3 separate regions of the Homo sapiens genome follow, and regions 2 and 3 are each linked to region 1. Evidence: fine-mapped expression QTL. A gene starts in region 1. Each other region holds a variant in brackets. All regions are shown on one strand. Distances are from middle to middle.

The links. PIP is the estimated chance that this variant, and not a neighbour inherited with it, causes the effect. A credible set is the group of variants that fine-mapping cannot tell apart.
Region 2: its variant is the best candidate, but not a certain one, in a credible set for the expression of INSIG2 in testis (GTEx, PIP 0.88).
Region 3: its variant is the best candidate, but not a certain one, in a credible set for the expression of INSIG2 in whole blood (INTERVAL, PIP 0.62).

Annotation. Positions count from the first base shown.
Region 1 is chr2:118,086,556-118,090,799 of GRCh38, reverse strand. It overlaps INSIG2 (insulin induced gene 2), which reads right to left and starts at 2,329. Exons shown (of 6, transcript NM_016133.4): 1 at 2,259-2,329. LOC107985940 (a long non-coding RNA gene) reads left to right here and starts at 2,369. Exons shown (of 3, transcript XR_001739662.3): 1 at 2,369-2,549. RefSeq lists enhancers at 2,375-2,564, 2,575-2,624.
Region 2 is chr2:118,764,105-118,768,348 of GRCh38, reverse strand. No RefSeq gene overlaps it. Among named protein-coding and RNA genes, the nearest start is that of LINC01956, 70 kb to the left of the region's middle. The variant C/A (reference allele first, on the strand shown) is at 2,406.
Region 3 is chr2:117,746,766-117,751,009 of GRCh38, reverse strand. No RefSeq gene overlaps it. Among named protein-coding and RNA genes, the nearest start is that of DDX18, 66 kb to the left of the region's middle. The variant A/C (reference allele first, on the strand shown) is at 1,942.

The DNA of each region.
Region 1 (4,244 bases):
TTCTTCCTGCTTCACCACACTGCTTCCATTCACAAACATGGTACAAAACAATTTAAGTGCCACACAAGAAACCGTTTTTAAAATCATGTTGGTAAACTACTATTAATACCAAAATAATGTTTTCAACAATTCACAAAGAAAAACTTTCCACCAGACTTGAAAAATTCTACGCTGAGCCCTGGCCTAAAATTTCTGGAAAGTACAATACTAAACAAAAAGAAAAAAAGTTGAAATAATTTGCATAGATCAATGATGAATCATCAATACTGGAAAAACATTATTCCAGGTGTATGGCTGCCTATTAATGGATTGATATTATTACTTTCAGGTTAAAAAAGAGTTATAAGTGATTATGAGCTTCGTGAATAAAAATCAAGGTTCATGTTGGCCACTGAAACAACTTAGAGGCAACAAGCATTTGAAAACAAACACACATACAAAATCTTCTAGTAACCTTAAGAACCTGTTGCATTGTAACAACTGCAACACCCCCTAAAACCAAATGACAAGACCATTCCTCTTCCAATGATTAGCCGTAAAAGAAGTATTTTTACTCCCTCAGATAACCCTGTTTCTTCAGGTGCTTAGGTCACGTAAGCTACTAAATAATAAAGTTAAATTACTACCTCACATATTTTTCATCATATGCTCTCTTAATTAGAATAGCATTCTTGAAATAGAATAAGCACTAACATTAGAAAAAAACAGACTTAAATCAATGCAACAGTTTAATGCTCCCTAAATAAAAACACATCTACATGTATCATGGGCTAGAGACGTTAAAAATTTCTAGGAAGAAAAGCAATATTTGCCTTATAAACACTGCAACTCTTTCCTCTCAACATTAAAACCCAAACATAGAAACCAGTAAGTTAGCTGCATTTACAGCCCCTTACAGGTTTTAAATGTCACATCTCAGTGCCTAAAAAAGTTACTCCATCGTTTCGAGATAAGTTTCTGAGAACAAAGAAAACTCTTTAAACTACTGAACTGCATTTTATTCTTTCCTTTTCCGTGTGACCATCTGCAAAAGCAACAGTTGTCAGTTAAACAGAATCAACCTCTTTCCCGAGTGGACATGATTCACAGCTTGGTCACTGTACAGCAGATGTGAACTGAGAACTACGACATAACACAATGACAAAACACAGTACTGAGCACAAAGTACAGGGAAAGAATGAAAGACAGAAAACAGGAAGAGCACACGTCTGATTTTTGTTTTCTTTGGGGCCCCCATTAGTAGCATTCCCTTCATCCATCTTCATTCAGTGGTTCACTATCAGGGCCAAACCCAAAAGTTACAAAACACCATCTAGCTACTGTCTGGCTGCTTTTATTTTTTCTGCACCAGGACGGGAGCACGCATTCCCCTGCAGTCCTCAGCTCCACCGCAATACTGATACCAAACAGTTTCAGTGGCCCAGCTGCCAAGCCTAACCATTCCTTTTTAAAGCATTTCTTCATCAATCCTACAAAACAGCAAGTTCTTCATGGTATATTTTCCTAGAGCATCTAGCTAATATCATACTTTAACAACTTTTTCCAACGTTAACTGGACATGGGTCATTATCACTTAAGTGTTAGCGCCATTGCCCGCGCCCACTCCCATAATCCACACTGCTTTCCTTCTCCATATTGCCAATCCCCACTAAGCAACCCTAAAATCTAGTAATTATCATCAAATCCACTTCTAGGCCCTGGCAAGAATTATTTGGCTTTACCGAAACACCTATTCCATAGGTAACCAATTCCAGTCAAAAATGCCAGAGTATTACTCCTCAACCCAATGCCCTATCTCCTTAGTGGATTATAAACTTACTACGACAACCTGTCTTCTTTGGATCCAATCCCCGCCCAAGTCTGAGTCTTCTCTCCCAGGCTACAAGCCCCCAAGTCCTGGCAGCTCTATGCTTGACAGCTCGCTGACCTCCACCTCATCAGACCATTGGGTCGCCCTTCTCGCCGTCCTCCAGCCTTCTTCCCGCTCAGACACTCATCCACTGTCCGGGGAGCCTCGACCCCTCCTATACCCCCTCCCCGATCCCGCAGTCCCCTTCTGGACCTTGCGGACCCCTCTCAGGTAAGCGGAGCCCCTTGCCCTGCAGGCCCATCAGTGGTCCTGGCTCCCCGCACCTGCCACCAGGGTTCCCAGGCTGCAAAAACACAAGTAGTTCTTCTTCCCAAGGGCCACCCTCCTCCTCAGGCCGCTTTCCTCAGCACCACGTCACCCGCGCTTCGCCGGGAGACCCCCAACTCACCCCCGCCTCCGCCATCTTCTGGGACCAGCCCCCGTACCCCCTACCGCCTCTTCCTCCTCCACTCCCACAACTCCGCCCGAGCTCCACTGCGCCTGTGCGGCCAACGAGGCCGCGCGCAGGCGATCGGGGCAGAAGAGCTTCCGGTTCCTGCTGTCAATAAGACGTGGACCTGCGAGCCGGGGCAAAAGGGCTTCCGGTCTGCGGGAAACTGGAGGCTAGCGGTGGGCGTGGACCGTCGAGGTGACTGGCGGTTGTCGGATCTGCTGTTGTTTGCTGACCAGGCAGCCGTAGGTAATGACGGATGCCCAGACCCTGTGGGCGGAGTAAAGGAATCATGCACTGATACACGCACACTCACCGAGGGGCGCGTCCGTCTGCGTGCCCCTCATCTCGTAGCCGAAAGGAGCGCGTTCCGGGGCAGGCCTCCGGGTACTTCCCGCAGAGGACCGGGCTTTATACTCTTTGCTCCTTTTCCTCCCCTAGTAAGTCATAACTTATTTTGGGAGAAGGGCATAGTTATTTGTCTCTCGTCTCCATGCTACAGCACTTTATGTGCTTTTCATTCAAAATCGTTCCTCGAGGACGACCAAGTAATGTGATTTGGGGGACAGTTTTCATAGGAAGGGCTTTATAAGTTTACACCAACATAAAGAAAACTTAAAAACCTTATAACCGCTTATTTTTCAGAAGTATTATTTTTCATTTAATCTAAAACCATACTTTTAGAACATGAAACCAAGCCAAACAGATCTTTGCAGATTGTGCAAGCGAACTTTTTTTTTTGAATGAAAGTGGTGCCATCAATGCAAAAGCAAGCCCATATAAGTGCCGAAAGGTACTCGTCATAAGGAGGAGTTGCTTCCCTATTCTGAATTTTTATTTATTTTTATTTATTTATTTATTTGAGACGGAGTCTCTCTCTGTCACCCAGGCTGGAGTGCACTGGCATGATCTCGGCTCACTGCAACCTCTGCCTCCCGGGTTCAAGTGATTCTTCTGCCTCAGCCTCCCCAGTAGCTGGGACTACAGGTACATGCCACCATGTCTGCCTACTTTTTGTATTTTTAGTAGAGATGGAGTTTCATCATATTGGCCAGGCTGGTCTCAAACTCCTGACCTCGTGATTCGCCCGCCTCATCCTCCCAAAGTGCTGGGATTACAGGCGTGAGCTGCCCCCTGAATTTGTTTTTTTTAAGCAACTCTTTTTAAAAAGAGAGAAAAAATAATCTCTCTTGAGTGTATTAGTTATTGAGCTATTCCATTTGGAGGTGGCTTAACCCAAAACGTGTATGGATGTGGTAAGATTACAATGGACTTGAATGTTCTAGATGAAATCTGGGCCGAGAGTAATTGCATAATAGTTTTCCAAAGGACTGTCAGATGGTAAACTCCTTTCATTTACTTTGAACTGATAAACGATAAGATGGATTTTTGTTTTTTGACCTTTTTATCTACATTTACTTCTGAAAATTGAAAAAGAATCTGAATTCCAACAAAATGTTTCTAGGCAAGTATTTGCATGATGCTTCTCTAACATTTCCTATATCTTAGTGTTTTCTCTAATGTTTTCTGTAGCTTTCAAATTTCACTCCTGTAAGTTTTTACACTACCAGTAAGAAAGATCTGGGCCAATTATACAGAATGGACGATGATTTTTAAAAGAATAGAGAAAGCATTCAGAAAAGAGACAATAATTTGAAAATGTTCTGACATCATGTATTTCCTTAAAGCAATACAAGTCCTGTATGTCCAGTTCATGTCTACTCCAACCGAGCTTTTTTCAGACACTTAGAAATTGCCTTCAAGAAAATCCTTATGGAACATTGTAACCTAGAGGGGCATTTATTTTCGTTTAAATATGTATTAATTGCAAGTAGTGACAGAACCTAAAAAGCAAAAACCATATAGCACCAGTTCCAAGGTTCCTATATCTAATGCAGTTACTCCTACTGCAGTACAAGGAGGAATATAAAATCCCTAGGAGAA
Region 2 (4,244 bases), 680 kb before region 1:
TGCTGCAGCCATGAAGATATCCAGGGTGACTGGACAAAGGAGGTTATGTTGTTCTTCACAAGTTTGTAATCTATCCAGTCAATATTAAGGTGCAGTAAAACTGGATTTTTCATCTGAATGACATCAAACATCTATATGCAAATGGTGGGATCCTTAGATATTTTCAAATAGAAGAATTATTTGGAAATATTGGGGAATCATGCAGCTTACAAATAGAATTTTTCAGATTTTAGCCAGATGGCAGGGTTCTGAGACCTCTGATTTAGCTCTTATCTGCACAGGTATTCTGAAAACCTAGAGTAGGAGCTTCTCTTTAGGCATCCAGTTAGGATTGCTGAAATGATACAAAACACATTTTTTTTTTTGGCTTGCTTAACTGCAGGTGTTTTGGCTACATTAACTGCATCAAGCTGTCTGTCCTCACTATGTCCTGGGAGCCTAGCTCTTTGGAGAAAGAAGAGTTTGACCAGCTCCTCCAATTCTGGTTTTCATCCTGCCCTCATTATCCTCCATTGGAAAGAAGTGAAGGAAAGCCTCTGATGAGGGAAAGAAATGACAATTTCTAAGTATTTTAAGTAAAAGTGCTAGACACTGGGCTCTCTTCTTCTAAGGTTGTCAGATAAGAGGTGAAGTTGCCAATAATTTGTTGGTTTGGCATCACTTATTTTGAAAAGTACATTCCCTGCTTCCAACAGAAATTTTGAGCATTTCTTATCCCCCCTATATATTCCAGCAAATTCACAAAGCTGCAAATATCACTGCCTCAGATAACTGGGGAAGTAGTATATCTGTGGCAGAACAAATAGAAGAAGAAATGAATTGTCTGCAAAAAAAAAAAAAAGAATGGGTTTGTATGAAGATGCTTATGCACAGATTTATAAGTTCATAAAAATGCCACATTTAGAATATTCATCTTAATGCAGAGCTATTTCCTTTTATGGAAAATAATTCTTAATAAAAATTCCATCAACCTTAGTAAACCTTTCAATTTAAGTATTTCTTTTGTTTCTTGCATGAGAGGAGATTTTTTTCTCAGTTAGGACTTGCTGATATATTTGTTCCCCTGTTAGAGGAGAAAACTTTGCTGATGACACCTTTAATATGGGGAGAAAAACAGAAGAAGGACCCTCTCGCCTCTGGTTTGTTTTCTTGAGCTTGTAATTTTAAAATATCTTCTTACAGGAGCCCTACTACGTGAACTGTCAACGGAGTAGAAGTCAAGCAAAGGTGACTTGCTGCCTGCCACATCTGCCTCCCGCTGTGAAATCACAACAAGGCAACCACGAATAGCTGGTAAAAGTCCCAGTCTTCAACGCAGTGGTGTAATTTCCTATGATAAATAGCTTGGAAGAATGCTAATCAAAATTACTTTCTGGTTCTACCTTATTCAGCAAGACAAATGCATGACAAGGCCCCAGAGGCAGGGATTTGCTTTAATTTGAGGATGTCTTTGCTCAAATCTGTCTGACCATGTTGGCAGCCACCCCCCACCCAACTCTGTGCACCTGGGTGGGGCATGGGCCCATCTGTCTTGGCACCATGGCCTTTTCACCTGCAGACCTGCCTCTGTAGCCTGAGCACCATTTACCTCATCCATTGCCAGAAGTTACTCTCTCACATGCTTCAAATTTACTTTCCAGAAAGCAAAAGGGCTTCCAATGATTTGAAGAGAGTGATGCTGACAGTGTGCATTATTACCATTCTCATCTCTAGGAACTCCCACTTTTTTCAGCAGGCTGATGGGCATATGTGGTCTACATGGCCAAACGGGCAAGAAGATGTAAGGAAATCTTTTTTTTTTAACTTAGATAATTTGTTTTTTAAACTTGGATACTTGGATCACAAGAGAAAATTTCGAGAGACTTTGACTTGAGGCACCATTTCCACATGGGTTGAAGGATTTCAGGAAGAGTCCCAAGTAGGGCAACCAGATCTGCTAAGAGGATGTCACTGCAGTTTCTGGACTCAGCTAATGACATCAGGGAAAAGGGAAGGTCATTTTCCTTTGTATGAAATGGCAAACATGTGAGCAGGGATTTGTAAACTCAGACTACACCACAGGCAGGCTTCAGTGTTTGACGCCTTCTGTTTTTATTGCTTTGTGAGACTGACCAATTAAAACAACCCAAAGGCCACGTTTATGAATATCTCTCTGATGGGACCAACTTCCCTTGCTGTGAGCCTCGCACAGTGGCTATGTATGGACATCATCTGAGTAGGAAATATTGCCCTGGAGTGAGAGGGATTCCACAGAGTGGGTTTCTCTCCCCCTCCTAGGTCTTAACCTTTCATAGCAAGACAGACAACCAGGAAAGTAGGAAATCGAAACAAGCTATGTTTAGCTGAATTTTACATACCATAATCTCTTTACCATGGTCAAGCAAGGCAGGAATGCTCAGGCCAAT[C/A]GGTTCTGGCTCAAATCCATTCCAGAGGGGAGTGATTTACAACTTAGCACCATCTTCGTCTCTTCCCTGAGAGTGAAGTTAAATGACCCAAGAATAACATTAGTCTGCACCAGACCTCGCGAGAATGATCTTCCTAAGGGTGGTCCTGGGCATGGGTTTTCACCTGCAGAAACTCAAGCCCAGACATCCCTCCAAAGCCCTGGTAAGGGTCAAGTAGCATTCCTATGTTAAGAACCGACAGTGTGGTGAGTTACGAGGTCTTAGGGAAGAGTGGAGTCTGGCCCAGAGGCCTTTTGTTGCTTCCTCACCAGTGAATCTTAAGTTGTCCCAGGCCAGGGATACACATGCATATGTATTTCAGCCTCCTCCCCACTTCATGCCCCAAGAAAAGGCCCTTCTGTCTCATGCTTGATATAAAAAGATTGCAAGGTGTTAGAAGGCAAGTTAATGGGTAACCCAGGGCAGAGAAAGAAACAGGGCAGAGGTTTGTCACTTCAATGGTTAAAATATCTTGATGTAAAAATGAGCCCCTTAAAATAGTCCGGGAGGGCCCAAAAAACCACCCGACGGGGCTTATAAATAGACGAGCGAGATGTTGAAATTATTTTAAGACAGATGCCTTTTAAAACTGTATTCAGAACATCTTTTGGGGCTCCTAGTTGCACAGTTCCTCAAGCAGGAGGTATTTCATCTTCGCAACATCTGGAACTGTCAAAGAGGTAGCGCTGCAGACCTCAACAGATGCAGACACTTCTACATAAAAGTGCACCAACAAATCATGGCCATAATTGCAGAACAACACGAATGTTTCACAGGCAGCTGTGGAGAAAACAATGCTCTGGCAGGGAGGAAAACTTACTGTAACCCCCAAACCCCTCCACTTTTATTGCTGAATCACTCCTTTAAGCAACTTTTCCACAGTTCTCCACCAAGAGGCTAACAATTGCAAGCAAGTTTATTTTCTCAGCTTGTAATCAGGAGATGATTGACAAGGAGGTCTTTTTTTCCCCTTTGGGGTAAAAATTTTTTTATCCCACAAATCGGTAGCCTTGACTTGGTTGGGTAAATTTGTGATGTTGCTCAAAGTAATCTCCATGCTTGGTTTGGTTTTTCAGGTGAGGGGCAAGTGACAGCCCTTTGATACATGAAGGGGGCCAGTGTGTCCCCACATTGCCTTCCTGTGATGGGCAAAGCCACGTGGCAAAGTCAGACCTGGCTGGGATGCCCTATACAACCGGGACCCTGAGAACTCAGCCTTCCATTAGAACTCAGAACAAAACTGATATTTTGATTTGTCATTTCAGAGGCAGAGGCTCAAAAATACTTTAGAAACCTGTGGCCCGATGCATCGCTTGAAATTTTTATGCAGCTGAGGGCTGGAGTGCGGTGGGAGAAATAAAAGTGGGAGGAACGCCACAAAGGACCATGTTAGAACTTAACACAACTGTTCTATAAATTATGGTGACAAAACAAATACTGCTAATACTGATGATAATGATAAATGCTTTTAATCAGTTTTACTAAAGCATTTTAAATCTTGTGGGACAGATGGGAAAATAAAACTTGCTGTTGGAACCTTGGGATTTATAAGAAACTCCTTGGTCAACATTATAAGGAGGACGGAATCTTCCAAGGTGAAGAAGAGAAGCTGGTGTGATAAAATTTCTATCATCATCACGTTTTCGCTTTGCTTTAATGGCAAATTAACACTCACCCTAGTTGTTAAACACATCCTTTCAATTAATCTCCCAGCCGGTGAAGTGCTGCTCCCTGGATCTTGAGCAATGTGGGTTGCCTGACCCACGTCAGGGCCAAGGAAACTGGCGGGCATGGTCAGGG
Region 3 (4,244 bases), 340 kb after region 1:
TGGTTTTAGGTCTAACGTTTAAATCTTTAATCCATCTTGAATTGATTTTTGTATAAGGTGTAAGGAAGGGATCCAGTTTCAGCTTTCTACATATGGCTAGCCAGTTTTCCCAGCACCATTTATTAAATAGGGAATCCTTTCTCCATTGCTTGTTTTTCTCAGGTTTGTCAAAGATCAGATAGTTGTAGGTATGCGGCGTTATTTCTGAGGGCTCTGTTCTGTTCCATTGATCTATATCTCTGTTTTGGTACCAGTACCATGCTGTTTTGGTTACTGTAGCCTTGTAGTATAGTTTGAAGTCAGGTAGTGTGATGCCTCCAGCTTTGTTCTTTTGGCTTAGGATTGACTTGGTGATGCGGGCTCTTTTTTGGTTCCATATGAACTTTAAAGTAGTTTTTTCCAATTCTGTGAAGAAAGTCATTGGTAGCTTGATGGGGATGGCATTGAATCTGTAAATTACCTTGGGCAGTATGGCCATTTTCACGATATTGATTCTTCCTACCCATGAGCATGGAATGTTCTTCCATTTGTTTGTATCCTCTTTTATTTCCTTGAGCAGTGGTTTGTACTTCTCCTTGAAGAGGTCCTTCACATCCCTTGTAAGTTGGATTCCTAGGTATTTTATTCTCTTTGAAGCAATTGTGAATGGGAGTTCACTCATGATTTGGCTCTCTGTTTGTCTGTTGTTGGTGTATAGGAATGCTTGTGATTTTTGTACATTGATTTTGTATCCTGAGACTTTGCTGAAGTTGCTTATCAGCTTAAGGAGATTTTGGGCTTAGACGATGGGGTTTTCTAGATAAACAATCATGTCGTCTGCAAACAGGGACAATTTGACTTCCTCTTTTCCTAATTGAATACCCTTTATTTCCTTCTGCTGCCTGATTGCCCTGGCCAGAACTTCCAACACTATGTTGAATAGGAGCGGTGAGAGAGGGCATCCCCGTCTTATGCCATTTTTCAAAGGGAATGCTTCCAGTTTTTGCCCATTCAGTATGATATTGGCTGTGGGTTTGTCATAGATAGCTCTTATTATTTTGAAATACGTCCCATCAATACCTAATTTATTGAGAGTTTTTAGCATGAAGGGTTGTTGAATTTTGTCAAAGGCTTTTTCTGCATCTATTGAGATAATCATGTGGTTTTTGTCTTTGGCTCTGTTTATATGCTGGATTACATTTATTGATTTGCATATATTGAACCAGCCTTGCATCCCAGGGATGAAGCCCACTTGATCATGGTGGATAAGCTTTTTGATGTGCTGCTGGATTCGGTTTGCCAGTATTTTATTGAGGATTTTTGCATCAATGTTCATCAAGGATATTGGTCTAAAATTCTGTTTTTTGGTTGACACACAGTTGTTTTATAGTGGCAGGTAGGGTATACATGGTGGACATAGAAGTTTTCCAGGTAGGGCATAAATGATAGGTATAGAAGTTTCCAGTTGTTCTGATTATCTATTATTATGTAACAATTCATCCCAAAACTTAATGTATTAAAGCAAGCCAAGGATTCAGGAGCAATTTAGTGGAGCAGTTCTGGCTCAGGGTCTGTATAAGGTTGCCGTCAGGCAGTGGCCCGGGCTGGGGTCATGGGTGAGGCTTATTCACTAACATGTCTGGCACCTGTGCTGAGAAAACAGAAGCAGCTGGGAGACAGTGTAGTGTGACAGGTCTCCCACCAGGTTACTTAGGAGTGTATGTCCACTGCCTGAACCCTGAAGGCCAGGTGGTGAGCCAAGGCCATGGTGCCCAGCCGAGGAACAGGTGTCCTTGAGAACCGAAACATCTCACAGAGTATCTGGGGACATAACAAAGAAAATATTCCCATCACACACACACACAGGAGGCAAAGAGCCAGAAAATCAGCTTAAAAGCAGCTTAGGGATGGGAGACAGAGTGGATCTTCTGAGCTGCCCTGCCCAGGAGTGCCCTGTATGCA[A/C]GTCTTCATAAACTCATCTACTTGTCAGGCTGGACTTGTCCAAGTCATTCTTTGGTCTCTTTGCTCCTTCCCAGTTGCGGGAGGAGAGGGAGGGAGATGTTATAGTCCAAAGTTTTTCTCATAGCTGATGGAACAGCAGGAGCCATTGGGGACTTTTGGCCATCTCTCTCCATCTCTATTTGGCTTCTCCATATAGTTTATCTTGCTTGGTGGCTTCATGGTGTATGGACTTCTTACATGGTGGTTCAGGGCTTTAAAAGGCACATGTCTCTAAAGAGGGTGAAAGGCATAAGCCATTATCACCTTTCATAACTAGTCTTGGATATGGTGCAGCATGGATTTCATGTATTCTATGCGTGGAAGCTGTCATAGGCTTGCTCAGGATTAAGAGGAGGAGAAATAGATTTCATCTCTTGACGGGCAGCGAGGCAAGGTCCTGGAAGAGCATGTGGGACCAGAAATATCCCTGTGGTTCTTTCTAGAATATGCAGACTGCCACTGCATACTTTTCTTTTTGTAAATAGTCTTCTTAAATTGATGCATAATAGATGTACGTAGTTTTGAGGAATACATGATAATTTCATACATAGTATAATTGGTAAAGATCAAATAAGTGTATTTGGGATATCTATCACCTTAAATATTTGTCTTGTCTTTATGCTAGAAACATTCAAATTATTCTCTTGTAGCTATTTTGAAACGTACGATAGATTATGGTAAACTATAGTCACCCTACCGATCTTTCTAACACTAGGTCTTAATTCTTCTATCAAACTGTGTATTTGTGTCCATTATAATATTTTCCTTAATGAGAGGGTGTGCAGGCGCAGTGTCGAAACCTCCACAGCTGAGGTGGTGCTTCGACAGTTCAACTATGGGTAGGAGTTGACAGTCTGGATTAGATAGGCAGGACATATTTATTATTCCCACTTTCTATAGGGAAAAACCAAGGTATAAAAAAGTTGATAAAGACACCTAAGGTCAGCAGCTTTTGTAAAGGAAGTGCTGAAAATGGTTTATATTTTCTTCACCTTTAGCTCAGTTCTTGAGACAGCCAAGAGATTCTCACCCAGGGTGTGGAGCATTTTCTCACCCCAGCTCCAAGAGGCACAACAGAAGCTCCCAGAATGGGGCCTGAGAGCTTTGGTTTATCAGAAGGAAACAGATGTTAGAAAAGGTAAAATATGTTGGATTAGATCCTCTTGCTGCAATTAATTGTAGACTTGTTTCTTGAGTTCTTTGATTCTGATATCTGTTGTTTAATTAATGAGGAATTCTTAATATGAAATCCCAGATATTGGAGATTCTAGGAAGAAGCCAGATATTGAATTTGAGGGGAAAAGAAAAACCTTTACTTCATAGAGTTAATTCCTCAAGGAGTTTCCAGGTAAATAGTTAGGATTGAGTTAGTGATTCACTGCTTTCTCCTCTTGTCTGATGTATGTAGACCTTTGGAGATTATTGAATGTGGAGAATACTTTCATTCTTTAGAGATTTTCAGGTCAATATGTGTTTATTGAGAGCCTGCTATGTGCCAGAAACTGTTACAAGTTGCGGGAACAAAATGCATGTACCACAGTATTTCCTCTCAAAGGGCTTACATATAGTTACTTTAAATGTCAAACTAGAAATGCTATGATATCTCGATATGTATGCACTGCTATGCCAGCACTGACATTGCTCTGGGGGATAGGGGCGGTCCTGCAGGAAGGCATGGTGGGCAGAGTCAGGAAAGATGCACAGGAGTTCCCAGGCACAGCAGGTGGGAAGCAGGCAGAATAAAAAAAAACACACATGCACACACAATCTCGTGGAGCTTCATGCAATCCAGTATTAACTGAATTGGTAAGGATCGTGAATAAAATTCATTTTCTGTCCTGTCATAGTAGATTCCATTTGTCCACATCAGTTGGATTTCTTAGCTAATGCCTTCCTGCACCTTTATGGATCAGATATAGAACGACTCTATCTTCTCATTTGCTTAAACAAATTATAAATATATAAAGTGGGAAGCATTGACTGTATTTCAAATCCTCTTTGTGTAGTTCATAGAGCTGCAGTTCCCATACCTTGTCAATATTAACCTTTCAAGTCAGTTTTCACTTTGGGTGCACGGAGTTCTCAATCTTCAGGAACTAACTGCTTTGCTGATACCAGGGAGGATTCGATTCCTGTTTTAAATGTGTTTCTACTTGTAGTCTTCCCCTTAAATGAAAAGATTGGCTATGTCTTGCTTTAACAGCAACTTTTCAGTTTCCAACACATTTGATTTGTGGCTGCCAGGGAAAGCAGAACCAAGGATC